Linked DNA regions of Homo sapiens: regions 2 and 3 are each linked to region 1. Evidence: fine-mapped expression QTL. A gene starts in region 1. Each other region holds a variant in brackets. All regions are shown on one strand. Distances are from middle to middle. Region 1 holds the start of VSIG10 (V-set and immunoglobulin domain containing 10). Region 2 overlaps VSIG10 (V-set and immunoglobulin domain containing 10). Region 3 overlaps VSIG10 (V-set and immunoglobulin domain containing 10).

Region 1 (4,140 bases):
ACTCTTAAGGAGCATGCTGCCTTCAAGCATCTGTTTAACAAAGCACATCTTGCACCGCCCTTAATCCATTTAACCCTGAGTTTGACACAGCACATGTTTCAGAGAGCACGGGGTTGGGGGTAAGGTCACAGAATCTCAAGGCAGAAGAATTTTTCTTAGTACATAACAAAATGGAGTCTCCCATGTCTACTTCTTTCTACACAGACACAGTAACAATCTGATCTCTCTTGCTTTTCCCCACACTAACACGGTGAAACCCCGTCTCCACTAAAAATACAAAAATTATCCGGGCGTGGTGGCAGGAGCCTGTAGTCCCAGCTACTTGGGAGGCTGAGGCAGGAGAATGGCATGAGCCTGGGAGGCGGAGCTTGCAGCGACAGAGCGAGACTCCGTCTCAAAAAACAAACAAACAAAATTCCTGTCAAGAATCTGATGAACAGTTATTTTATTTTATTTTTTATTTATTTATTTTTTTTGAGACGAAGTCTCGCTCTTCTCCCCAGGCTGGAGTGCAATGGCGCGATCTCGGCTCACTGCAACCTCCACCTCCTGGGTTCAAGCGATTCTCCTGCCTCAGCCTCCCAAGTAGCTGGGATTACAGGCGCCTGCCACCACACCGGGCTAATTTTTGTATTTTTAGTAGAGACGAAGTTTCACCATGTTGGCCAGGCTACTCTCGAACTCCTTACCTCAGGTGATCCACCTGCCTCGGCCTCCCAAAGTGCTGGGATTACAGGCATGAGCCAACGTGCCCGGCTGATGAACAGTTATTTAAAAATATTTGAGCAAAGAATAAAAAAGGGCTGAGCGCGGTGGCTCGCACCTGTAATCCCAACACTTTGGCAGGCCAAGGCGGGTGGATCACTTGAGGTCAGGAGTTCGAGACCAGCCTGGGTAACATGGAGAAACGCTGTCTTTACTAAAATTACAAAAATTAGCTGGGCGTGGTGCTGCACACCTGTAGTCCCAGCTACTCGGGAGGCTGAGGTGGGAGGATCACTTGAGCCTGGTAGTTTGAGGCTGCAGCGAGGTATGATTGTGCTACTGCACTCTAGCCTGGGCAACTGGAGTGACACCCTGTCTCAAAAAAATAAAAAACAGAAAAGTAAAAAAGGCAGAACTGTTCAGCTTCATTGCTCAGTTCACCAGGAGAAACATTTTTTTTTTAAAGTGGTTTCAAGAGGATTTCCTCATGGAAGAAGCATTTCAATAAGGGGACCGTTGAACAACAGAACTAATGATTTTTTTTTAACGTTAATATTTATTTTGAGATGGAGTCTCGCTCAGTCGCCCAGGCTGGAGTGCAATGGCGTGATATCGGCTCACTGCAACCTCCGCCTGCTGGGTTCAAGCGATTCTCCTGCCTCAGCCTACCCAGTAGCTGGGATTACAGGCGCCCGCCATCATGCCCGGCTAATTGTTGTATTTTTAGTAGAGACAGGGTTTCACCATGTTGGTCAGGCTGGTCTCGAACTCCTGACCTTGTGATCCGCCCACCTCGGCCTCCCAAAGTGCTGGGATTACAGGTGTGAGCCACCACGCCCTGCCATATTATTATTATTTGAAACAGGAAGTTTCTCCTAGGGCTGTTTTATGGATGGCTCTTCCTGAGGATATCAAAGCCGCATTTTCCCCAGGACAGAATGGGATGAGGGCATGGCAGGGAAGAGAGGAGCTTAGCCTGGGAATCTGACTGGGTAAGGGGTGGGAGAACTAAAAGGGGAAAAGCAAAAACAAAACTCTTGAGAAACACGTCCTGGGGACTCCTTGGCTCTCGCTGTCACTGTGTGGTCCCAGCCAGTTCACTGGAGAACCGGAGTCTCGTGGCTGCTTTGGCTGAAAGTCAGGGGATCATCTTTCTCTGGCTCCCTTTTGCAGAGGGTAAGGAAAGGAAGCGATGGCGGCCTTGGCGCCCGCCCTGCGCCCAGGGACACAGACCGGAATCCCTCGAGACGCTCAGCGGGGACTGCCAGGGGGGTCCTGCGTTCTGCAGCTTGGCAACCGCTTCCTCCGGGTTCTGCAGCCCGGGGCAGCGGCGGGGGTTGCGTCCTGCGGCAGCTGCAGGGCTCCGTCCCGCCCGCTGTCCCCGCGACTCGGTACTGCTGTCCCGGGCGGAGTGGACTGGGGAGGGCCCAGCCTCCGCGCCCCGCCCCTGGCCCGGCGGGACCCGGCTCGGCGCGCCCTCGGCAGAAAGCCCTCCTCCCGGGCCAAGGTAGAGGAAGTTGGGCTCCCGCCTGGCTGGGAGGCGGGAGGGATCCCGCTCCTGTTGTTTTCCGCCGGCAGGAGTAGGCTGGCGGGCGCAGGGGGCGGGGTGCGCCCTCCCTCCCCGGCCAGGGCGCTCGGGAGCGGGGACCCGAGCCTGCAGCCGAGCTCCGCTGCCGGCCCTGGACACTCGGCTCAGCCAAGCATCCTTCCTGGGGGCCGAGGAAGTGGGGCCACTCTGCCGTTCCGAGGACCTGGGAGGAGCCCTCGGTACCCCGGGCCCCGGGGCCCTGGGGCACACACGTCCAGCCCAGCCCGAGCCTGCGTTTCCTGAGCCGGGATCTGGGGCGAGATGGCCGCAGGCGGCAGTGCGCCCGAGCCCCGCGTCCTCGTCTGCCTCGGGGCGCTCCTGGCCGGCTGGGTCGCCGTAGGTAAGGGGCCGCGATCTGGAGGGAAAAGTTGAGTTTTCCCAGTCAGCGGTGGGGAGGGGACAGCGAGAGACCCAATTCCCTCCGACTCCGCCCGGATCCGTGGTGGCCCCAGCCTAGAAGCTGCCCCAGGAGGGTCTTGGTTTCCTGCTCGCAGCTCGGCCGTCTTTGCAGGAAGGAGTTTTCCCGGGCGCCCGGTGCGGGGCGAGATACCCCCAGCCTCCTGGGGTGGGCAGCCGGTGAGGCTGCAGAGGAGCCGAGCCGAGCCGACGTGCGGGGGCAAAGTAAAGAGGCACGTGTGCCGGGAAAGTGATTTTTTTTTTTAAGCGTCGGATGTAAATTCGCGTTCTGGTTTTAGTAGTAACTGATACGCTGGTGCTCAAACTCGAGACTCCCACTTTATTTTTCTCCTCCCTCTGCCCAAGGTTGAACTCGCCTTACACCTGTAACCGGTGGACTTCCCTACACACCTTTGCAAGTCTTCCTGTGCCGACCAGCGCCTTCAAAGCGGGGTCTTCCGCCTTTACTTTTGGAAAAGCTTTTTATTTTGAAATACTTGGCTGACTTACAAAAGACTTCCCCTCACACTTGACATGATTGACAAAAGGTCTGAAATGCTTCATCTATGGTCTGCTTTGCTACGAAAAAAGAATTGGAGGGGTGCTTACAAAAATATGTAGAATGTAAAAAGATTGAACTATTTATATATATTTGAATTTAATTCACCAGCATGCCTACTGTGCATGCCTACTGTGTGCTGGGAGTGTGACAAGCTGGGAGGAGGCTGGGGTGCAGGGAGAGGAGATGGAGCCAGGAGGTGGTGAAGTTTGCCAGGATGCAGGCAGAGCGCTACTTTTTGTGTTCCCGGGTCTGCTCCACCCAACGGGTCTCCTCTTGCACGTTTCTGGAGATGGGTTGTAAAGTATGCTGGAGCTTCTTAGCAGCAAGTGCCAAGAGTTCCTAATTATTAGGCTCATACAATTTTATTTTGCTTTTTTTTTTTTAACCAACCATTTAAAAACAATAACATCTCTAGATTTCCAGTTTATCTGGAAAAATCTGAAGGTCTGGCAACACGGGGCCTGCTTTCCCAGTTGGAATTGGGCAGTGGTCATCCTCTTATCTAGGGCATATGAGCCCAAATTTGTTCCACCTCTCCCTGTTGTAATATTTGCCCCGCCACCTTCAGTCATGGGTGTTACCTGCTGGCCCTGCAGGCATTTGGCTGAGTAATCACTGTGCTGGGGTGTGGGTGATGGGGGAGGACAGTTCCTAGTTGGTCATCTCTGGACGTGAAAGGTGGTTGTCAAGTATTCCCATCTCCCCAGCTGTTTGCAGTGTTTCCTGCACGATGAACACCAGGAACCTGGGAAGTGAGAAGAACCCTGGGATGAAGTCATCCTGCTGGAATGACCTGGCTTTCAGGCTGACTGCCACCCGCCCCATGGGGAACCTATCTCCACTGCTATGGCCAGCTATTTTTTTCGAGCCAGGCTCTCGCTCTGTTGCC
Region 2 (4,000 bases), 41 kb after region 1:
ACTCTAAAATGAGAAGCTGGTTGTCTGAAGTAACCCTGCAGGTGTGGTTGGGGAAGGTCTGTTTTCTTGGATGAAGGAACTAAACTAAGCATATCAGAGCACTGTCTTAACCAGTTTTATTTCCCTGGAGATAGAATTCTTTTAAAAAGAGTTAGGGAGCTGGTAATAGGAAGTGCCTTTCATTATAACTACATTTTGCAGAGCTTCATATTTATATACAAGCCTCCTAGGTGATACACTGTTAGCTTGCAGACTTTCCTATGCTTCATTTCTCCTGTTGCTTTCAAAGAAGGCAGGAGACACGTTTAATAACGGAGTATCTGGTGATAAGAATTGCTTGGGCAAACCAGCTCATCTGGACTCTTTCTCAGTCTTGGAAGTGGGAAGAGGAAAACTTGTTTCCTTCCTGCTTCTTAAGGATATTCTGAGGGTACACTGATCAATAACACTAAATTTGGAATGAAAATACCATGTGATGAGTTTAGCCTGCTGATGCTTCCAGTAGATCCTTGTATAGTTTCAAGATTTAAGTTTTCCGATTTCATATAAATTTCTTAAAGTCGAGGACCTTATAAGGGTGCAATGGATGTTTGCTAAATATGAAAAACTGACTTGAATTTGCACTCTTTAATGTTGCGTATCTGCTCTAGTGGGCAGGACCTAGGGCTTAAAGGGGAACTTCCTTTCTCCAATTCTAGGAACTGGGACTCTAAAATGAGAAGCTGGTTGTCTGAAGTAACCCTGCAGGTGTGGTTGGGGAAGGTCTGTTTTCTTGGATGAAGGGATTAAACTGAGCAAATCACTAGAAGTATGCCCTGTCCCCTGCTCAGAACACTGGGGAGCTCAAGAGTGGGCTGCAATGTGCACCCCTCAGGAATAGCTGTGAATTGCAGGTCTACTGGCTTTTTGCTTTTTGTCTTTTGCTGCAAGGTACCCCACGTACTTAACCATTCTCAACAGTGTAAATCAGTGTCATTTTAGAATGAGATACTCAGCTTGCTTCTAAAGTCACTGAATTACTGAGTGAGTCTCTCCTTTAGAGTCTTCGGCAACCAAATTCCAGAATTGAAGAGTCTACTACTCAGAGGCAACAAGATTAAAAAAAGAAAACACAAAAACTGTTGAGGTGAAAAAAAAAAAAAACCCTAGCTAGGAACACAGAGAATGTTTTGTAGGATCACTGGGATATTTTCCACAACTTCCTCTTCTCTAGCACACACATCTGTTGATAGGAAATATTTGAGGGTTTTTCCACTACCAAATGGGAGCTTCATGGTCCTGGTGTCAAACACTATAAACCTTTGACCAGCTGAGCTGTGACTGCTGTCACATATCTGAGTCCTGTGTGCACAGTAATATCCTGGGTCAGGTAAAATCCAGGTCTTCAAGTTTTAAGGATTTTTTGAAGAATTCGGGCTTCTTTAAGACGATCCATGCCCAAATCCACAAGCTTGTTGACAGTGGATTACAGTTTGTGTGGCAAAGTCCAAGTTGTTACACTGTGCTTTAAAAAAAATCTTATCTGCATGTATTGTTAACTTAGAGACCATGAGATCTATTTATCAGGACCAGGAAGATACACACTTCAGGTCCATTGCAACTGACTTTTTTCTTGTTTTTCTCAAACCCTGGTGGAGCCTGGGAAGGGGGCCTCCACAATTCTGTGGCTTTGATATTAGCCCCAATTCTCACAAGCACATACAAGCCCCATAATTGCCGCAGGAAAACACAAGATGGAAAATTGCAATAACCCATGCACTGAGACTTAGAAAATCATCCTTACTAGG[C/T]AAAATGTATTATGATGCAATAAGTGCCAACTGATATTTCTCACGTTGGGACTGGCCAGGAACTGCTGCAAAGAAAAATAAGCAGCTCCTTCTCCATTATTTACATTTTAAGATGTGGTGGGGGGAGGTTGGGAGAAATTAGTTCTGAGGTTATCATATGCCTTTTTTAAAAGATAATGGAATAAAGCTATTTTTAAGTAAGTGCTTTTGTGATCTTGATTGAGACCTGGTTAGTAAATTGAAAGACTTGGAAAAACGAACTTGCCAAAAAAAATTTTTTTTACTAGCTTTTTAAAAATTGGTAACAATATTCTTCTCACCTCAGCCCCGCCTTTTTTGTTTTTTTTTTTTTTTTTTCCTCCAGACGGAGCCTCCATCACCCAGGCTGGTGTGCAATGGCAAGATCTCAGCTCACTGCAACCTCCACCTCCTGGGTTCAAGTGATTCTCCTGCCTCAGTCTCCCGAGTAGCCGGGTTTACAGGTGCCCGCCACCACACCCAGCTAATTTTTGTATTTTTAGTAGAGATTGGGTTTGGCCATATCGGCCAGGCTGGTCTCGAACTCCTGACCTCAGGTGATCTGCCCGCCTTGGCCTCCCAAAGTGCTGGGATTACAGGCATGAGCCATCGCGCCCCGCGACCTTACCCTTTTATTCTTTTCCATGACGTGTACATAAAAACGAGGCCTGTAAGACTCCAGGAATCGAAGGAATTTGGGAGACAAAAAATGGAGACTCAGAAAATTAGAGAAGAGAAAAATGGGAGGGGGGAGCCTGGACAATAAAACGGGGGTCCTCAGGAGGCAGGAAATTAGCGATTAAATGGGAGCAGAGGTGGAGGAGGCCGACACTGGTGCCAGAGATAAAAGTGGAGTCCCAAAAAAAGGGGTGCGCTGGGCCGTTTTTAAAATTGGGAAACATAAAAAATACCCAGTGGAAAATGAAGAGAGAGAACGGGGCATGCTAAAGTTAACATGGGCGGCGAGAAAGGGACAGGTAGCCAGCGGAAAAGGGGGAGACTGAGAAACCGGCAGGTTCAAAGAAAAGAAAAAAAAAAACCGGCCAAGCGGGGTGAACAGGAGTGTAACCCAGGAGGCCAAACGGGACACAGGAAGGACGTACCCAGGGCTCATAAAACAGGGGCCTGGGTAAAAAAACCCGAAACATTAAAACGGAGAGACCATGGTGAAAAAGAACACGGGAACCTCAGTTACCGTAGAAAACATAGGTTGCGTTAGGAAGCAAAGAAATTTAAAATGGAACCACTGCGATCCGGAGCTCTGGGACCAGTGACCGGCAAATGGAGAGGGCACTTGGAGGGAAGCGAAGAAAGGCGGGGAGAAAGGAATGAGAGGCGGGAGAGTGACTTGAATGAAGCTGACACCAAGAACCGCGGGAAGAGCTTGGGCCCAAAGCAGGAAAGGGAAGCGCTCGAGTTGGGGGTAAGGGGAGGCATTTTGGGGACAATGAGCTGAGCTCAGTAAGAAATCCCCAAGCCACTGATACTACTGGGGACCGGACAACTAAGAAATGGGGTCTTTCAGGCATGAAAAGCCTCCATGATGACTCCTGCCCTGGCCCTGGAATGTTAAAAAGGGGGCGTCTGACCCAAGCGAGCCATTTCTTGAGGCTATGCGGGTAGACAGGGAGAGCAGGTTTCTCAGGGGGACGGGGACAGGCGAGGCTGTCGCCGTAGGTAGGTAAGGGGACAGTCTTCTTCCGAATCGCTCCTGCCCCGTTTTTTATCTCGTTCCCACCCCCACTCCGGTTTTCACCCTGCCCTCCTCTCCCCACCGCCCCGTGTTCTCCTCACTTCCCTCTCCCATTACCGGAGCCATTGAGTAGCCCCCCTTGTTTTACCCTAGCCTTGACCCTCGCCGCACCCCCCAATTCTTACGTCCTCCCCAGCACCCGGTTATTACACCTTCCTTCCACCCCCTCCCCATTTTCCCCTAAGCCCAGCTCTCCCCAGGTTTCTTCTCGGCCAGTATTCCCTCCAACCTATTTCTCCCGCCCCCATTTTTACCCGTTTCCCCCCTCATCGGCCTTCGCATGGCTCCATTTTCACCTGCCCCTCCCCTCGATTTCGCTTCAGCCCCTTTGGTTCCCCTTACCCCCACAGCCCTCGGTCTCCCTCTCTCCGTTCTCCCCGGATCGCCGCTTCCCCTGCTTGGTTTTTCTCTCAGCCCGGCTCTACCACTCTCCAACACCCCC
Region 3 (4,140 bases), 33 kb after region 1:
TAGGTTACTTGTATGTCTCAGGGCCAGATTTGGAAACAACGATAGGGCTGGGCACAGTGGCTCACGCCTGTAATCCCAGCACTTTGGGAGGCCGAGGCGGGTGGATCACTTGAGGCCAGGAGTTTGAGACCAGCCTGGCTAGTATGGTGAAACCTCGTCTTTACTAAAAATACAAAATTACTTGGGAGGCTGAGATGGGCAGATCACCTGAGGTTGGGAGTTCGAGACCATTAGCTGAGCATGGTGGCAGGTGCCTGTAATCCCAGCTACTCGGAAGTCTGAGGCAGAATTGCTTGAATCTGGGAGGCGAAGGTTGCAGTGAGCCGAGATCACACCACTGCACTTCAGCTTGGGTGACAGAGCGAGAATCCACTTCAAAAAGAAGAAAATAGCAATAGAACTTTAAAAACAGGATGCCTGCTTAAATTTGAGTTTAGAAAAATAAATACTTTTAAGTATAAGTGTGTCCCAAATATTTCATGAGACATACTTACACTAAAAAAACTATTCATTGTTTATCTGAAATCCAAATTTCACTGGGCATACTGAATTTTACCTGGGAACCCTCCCTGTAGGCCTAGTCTCATCTTGGGCCTCTCTCGAAAGGTAACCATGGTCCTGAATTTTAAGTTTTACTATATATGTCTCTACTTATTTCTTTTTATTTTATTTTTTATACAGATGAGGTCGCACTGTGTTGACCAGGTTGGTCTTGAACTCCTGGCCTGAAGTGAGCCTCCCATCTCAGCCTCCCAAAGTGTTGAGATTGCAAGCATGAGCCACCACACCTGGCCTCTTTCTTCCCTTCCCTTCTCCCTTTTCCTTTCTCTTCTCCCTTTTCCCTTTCCTACCTTCCTTCTTTTCTTTCCCTCCCCTCCCCTCCTCTTTCTTTCTTTTTTTTTTTTGAGACGGAGTCTTGCTCTGTCACCCAGGCTGGAGTGCAGTGGTGCGATCTCGGCTCACTGCAAGCTCCACCTCCTGGGTTCATGCCATTCTCCTGCCTCAGCCTCCCAAGTAGCTGGGACTGCAGGCGCCCGCCGCTGTGCCCGGCTAATTTTTTGTATTTTTAGTAGAGATGGGGTTTCACTGTGTTAGCCAGGATGGTCTCGACCTCCTGACCTCGTGATCCGCCTGCCTCGGCCTCCCAAAGTGCTGGGATTACAGGCGTGAGCCACCGCGCCCGGCCCTCTTTCTTTCTTTGAGATGGAATTTCGCTCTTGTTGCCCAGGCTGGAGTGCAATGGCGCGATCTTGGCTCACCGCAACCCCCGCCTCCCGGGTTCAAGTGATTCTCCTGCCTCAGCCTCCCAAGTAGCTGGGATTACAGACATGCACCACCACACCTGGCTAATTTTGTATTTTTAGTAGAGACGGGGTTTTAACATGTTGGTCAGGCTGGTCTCGATCTCCCGACTTCAGGTGATCCGCCCTCCTCAGCCTCCCAAAGTGCTGGGATTACAGGCATGCGCCACTGCGCCCGGGCTCTAGTACCAATTCTTAAATAGTGCTTCCTTTGCTCAAGACCCTGTCATATATCAATTATACTTACGTGTGGACCCGTTCCTGGACTCTCTGTTCTGTTCCGTTGATCACTCTGTTTATCATGGCATTGATAACTCTCAACACTCTTACTTACCATGGCCTTAGAAATAGTCTCAGTGTTTGGTAGACAGAGAGATTTTAACTTTCCATTGTTTGTTCACATTCCCTGCTCCATCTGATCCCCACAAACTCTCTGAGGTTGGGTGATAAAATATTTATCTGGCATTACAGACAGGTCATAAGCCTTACCCAAGGTCAGGAATCAAGACAAGAACTGGATCCACGCAGAGAAAGGGAGGTGTTGTTCTAATTGCACACATATCTGATGGAAGAATCAATGGTGTGATTTGTCTTTACAGAACCTTTAAATATCGGGGGGATTGTGGGAACCATTGTGAGCCTCCTTCTGCTGGGACTGGCCATTATCTCAGGGCTTCTGTTGCATTATAGCCCTGTGTTCTGCTGGAAAGGTAAGGACTCCCTGGGTCCTTTAGCTTCTCTTCCAGACTTTTGAAAAGGTGCGGGATGGGGAAGGATGGCCCCTGCCTTGCTCCCACCTGAAGTTCTGTTCTCTGGGCTTCTTTGCTGGGTCAAGATACACAGTAATAAGTCACCTAAGTACCATCCCGGGACACCCTATCACCTGTCATATTGAGTCAGTTTTCTTATTTGTTCCTCTAGTAAATGTTTGCCTGATTAAGAACCTGTCAGGTTGAAGTGGATGTTACTGGATATTAATGGTTTTTCCTTTCTCTCTTCAGTAGGAAACACTTCCAGGTGAGTGTTCCCTAGAATCAAACCAAACACCCATTCCCGCATCTGTCTTCACTTCTGTTT[T/C]GTTCCCTTCCTTTCACAAGAACAATAATAGCAACTACCATTGAGGACCTACGATGTGCTAGACACTGGCCTAGGGATTTCATCAGGTATTCTTATAAACCCTTTCATCATCTCCTCAGGGTGGTGGTGACATCTCCATTTTCCAGATAAGGGGATGGAGGCTCAGTGAAGTAATTTCTGCAAGCTCATTCCAGAAGAAAGCAGCAGTGCCTTCCTTCAGGTCCAGGTCTAATCAATTCCAAAGTCTGTGTTCTTTTACAGCGCCAAACCTCAGGGCTGGACACATTGCAGGTCTGTCATTGAGACAGAAAGACAATGTGTACATTTTGAGCCAGTCATTCATGCATTTGTTTTATTTAATTTTCTAAAAAGAGCTAAAAGAAAGAATCAGTCATAGTCTTAAGTTTTTTTTTCTTTTTCTTTTTTCTTTTTTTTTTTTTTTTTGAGACAGAATCTCTCTCTCTTGCTCAGGCTGGAGTGCAGTGGTGCAGTCTCAGCTCACTGCAATCCCTACCTCCCAGGTTGAGGCCATTCTCCTGCCTCAGCCTTCCGAGTAGTTGGGATTACAGGTGCGCACCATCAAGCCTGGCTAATTTTTGTATTTTTAGTAGAGACAGGGTTTCACCATGTTGCCCAGGCTAGTCTCAAACTCCTGGCCTCAAGTGGTCTGCCCGCCTCGGCCTCCCAAAGTGCCGGGATTACAGGCACGAGCCACTGCACCCAGCCAGTTTTACAGTGTTTTGGAAGACTACTATGAGCATGCCCAGAACCCCCTCCCAAAAGGAAACCCCAGTAGGGGCGAAGGAACCAAACGGAACTTGTGTATTTCATTTCCTAAGGAGATTCTGGGTGGGAGCAGAGTACTCTTCTCTATGATCCTATGGAAAAACAGTTCTTTACCTCTTCAAAATGACAGGATATTATTGACCTGGGACCATCTTTCGTAGCAAAACATTACCTTTACTGCCCTGTATTGGAGGGCCATTCTTAGTAAGTCTGTCATTCCCTGGGCTTATTTCTCACTGGAGGCATCAGTGTGGTGTAGTAGGAAAAGGCACTGAGACCATTGGACCTGGGTTCAAATGACAGCTGTGCCATTCCCAAGCCCTGTACCCATAGAAAATCCCTGACCCTTTCTGAGCCTTAGTCTCCTGATTTGTTTCACCAGGGGGTTTGTGAAGATTAAATGACAATGTAACACAGCTCCTCGGGCAGGTGACTGACCTGTGGCGTTCATTCTTCTTCCTTAAGAAATGCATAGTCCAGGCCGGGTGCAGTGGCTCACGCCTGTAATCCCAGCACTTTGGGAGGCCGAGGCGGGTGGATCACCTGAGGTCGGGAGTTCGAGACCAGCCTGACCAACATGCAGAAACCCCATCTCTACTAAAAATACAAAAAATTAGCCGCATGTAGTGGCGCATGCCTGTAATCCCAGCTGCTTGGGAGGTTGAAGCAGGAGAATTGCTTGAACCTGGGAGGCAGAGGTTGCGGTGAGCCATGATTGTGCCATTGCACTCCAGCCTGGGCAACAAGAATGAAACTCTGTCTCAAAAAAAAAAAAAAAAAGAAGAAGAAGAAGAAGAAGAAATGCACAGTCCAGGCCGGGCACAACAGTGGCTCATGCCTATAATCTCAGCACTCTGGGAGGCCAAGGTGGTTGGATCACTTGAGGCCAGGCATTCGAGACCAGCCTGGCCAACATGTTGAAACCATGTCTCTACTAAAAATACAAAAATTAGCCAGATGTGGTGGCGCATGCCTG

What was found. PIP is the estimated chance that this variant, and not a neighbour inherited with it, causes the effect.
Region 2: its variant is fine-mapped to the expression of VSIG10 in whole blood (TOPMed, PIP above 0.99). The same link has a PIP of 0.9 or more in blood mononuclear cells, monocytes, monocytes after LPS, monocytes after Pam3CSK4, monocytes after R848 and monocytes after interferon gamma.
Region 3: its variant is fine-mapped to the expression of VSIG10 in whole blood (TOPMed, PIP above 0.99). The same link has a PIP of 0.9 or more in breast and unexposed skin.

What each region holds. Positions count from the first base shown.
Region 1 is chr12:118,102,086-118,106,225 of GRCh38, reverse strand. It overlaps VSIG10 (V-set and immunoglobulin domain containing 10), which reads left to right and starts at 2,215. Exons shown (of 9, transcript NM_019086.6): 1 at 2,215-2,633. The coding sequence starts at 2,555. LOC124903029 (a long non-coding RNA gene) reads left to right here and starts at 2,644. Exons shown (of 2, transcript XR_007063478.1): 1 at 2,644-3,237; 2 at 3,959-4,140. RefSeq lists an enhancer at 1-480 and a silencer at 2,122-2,371.
Region 2 is chr12:118,061,581-118,065,580 of GRCh38, reverse strand. It overlaps VSIG10 (V-set and immunoglobulin domain containing 10), which reads left to right. Exons shown (of 9, transcript NM_019086.6): 9 at 1-1,988. It overlaps LOC124903030 (a long non-coding RNA gene), which reads right to left. Exons shown (of 2, transcript XR_007063479.1): 1 at 3,901-4,000. It also overlaps a transcript of WSB2 not described here. Among named protein-coding and RNA genes, the nearest start is that of WSB2, 2.4 kb to the right of the region's middle. The variant C/T (reference allele first, on the strand shown) is at 1,788.
Region 3 is chr12:118,069,230-118,073,369 of GRCh38, reverse strand. It overlaps VSIG10 (V-set and immunoglobulin domain containing 10), which reads left to right. Exons shown (of 9, transcript NM_019086.6): 6 at 1,901-2,011; 7 at 2,303-2,318. The region is part of intron 1 of LOC124903030 (a long non-coding RNA gene); the gene reads right to left. Among named protein-coding and RNA genes, the nearest start is that of WSB2, 10 kb to the right of the region's middle. The variant T/C (reference allele first, on the strand shown) is at 2,379.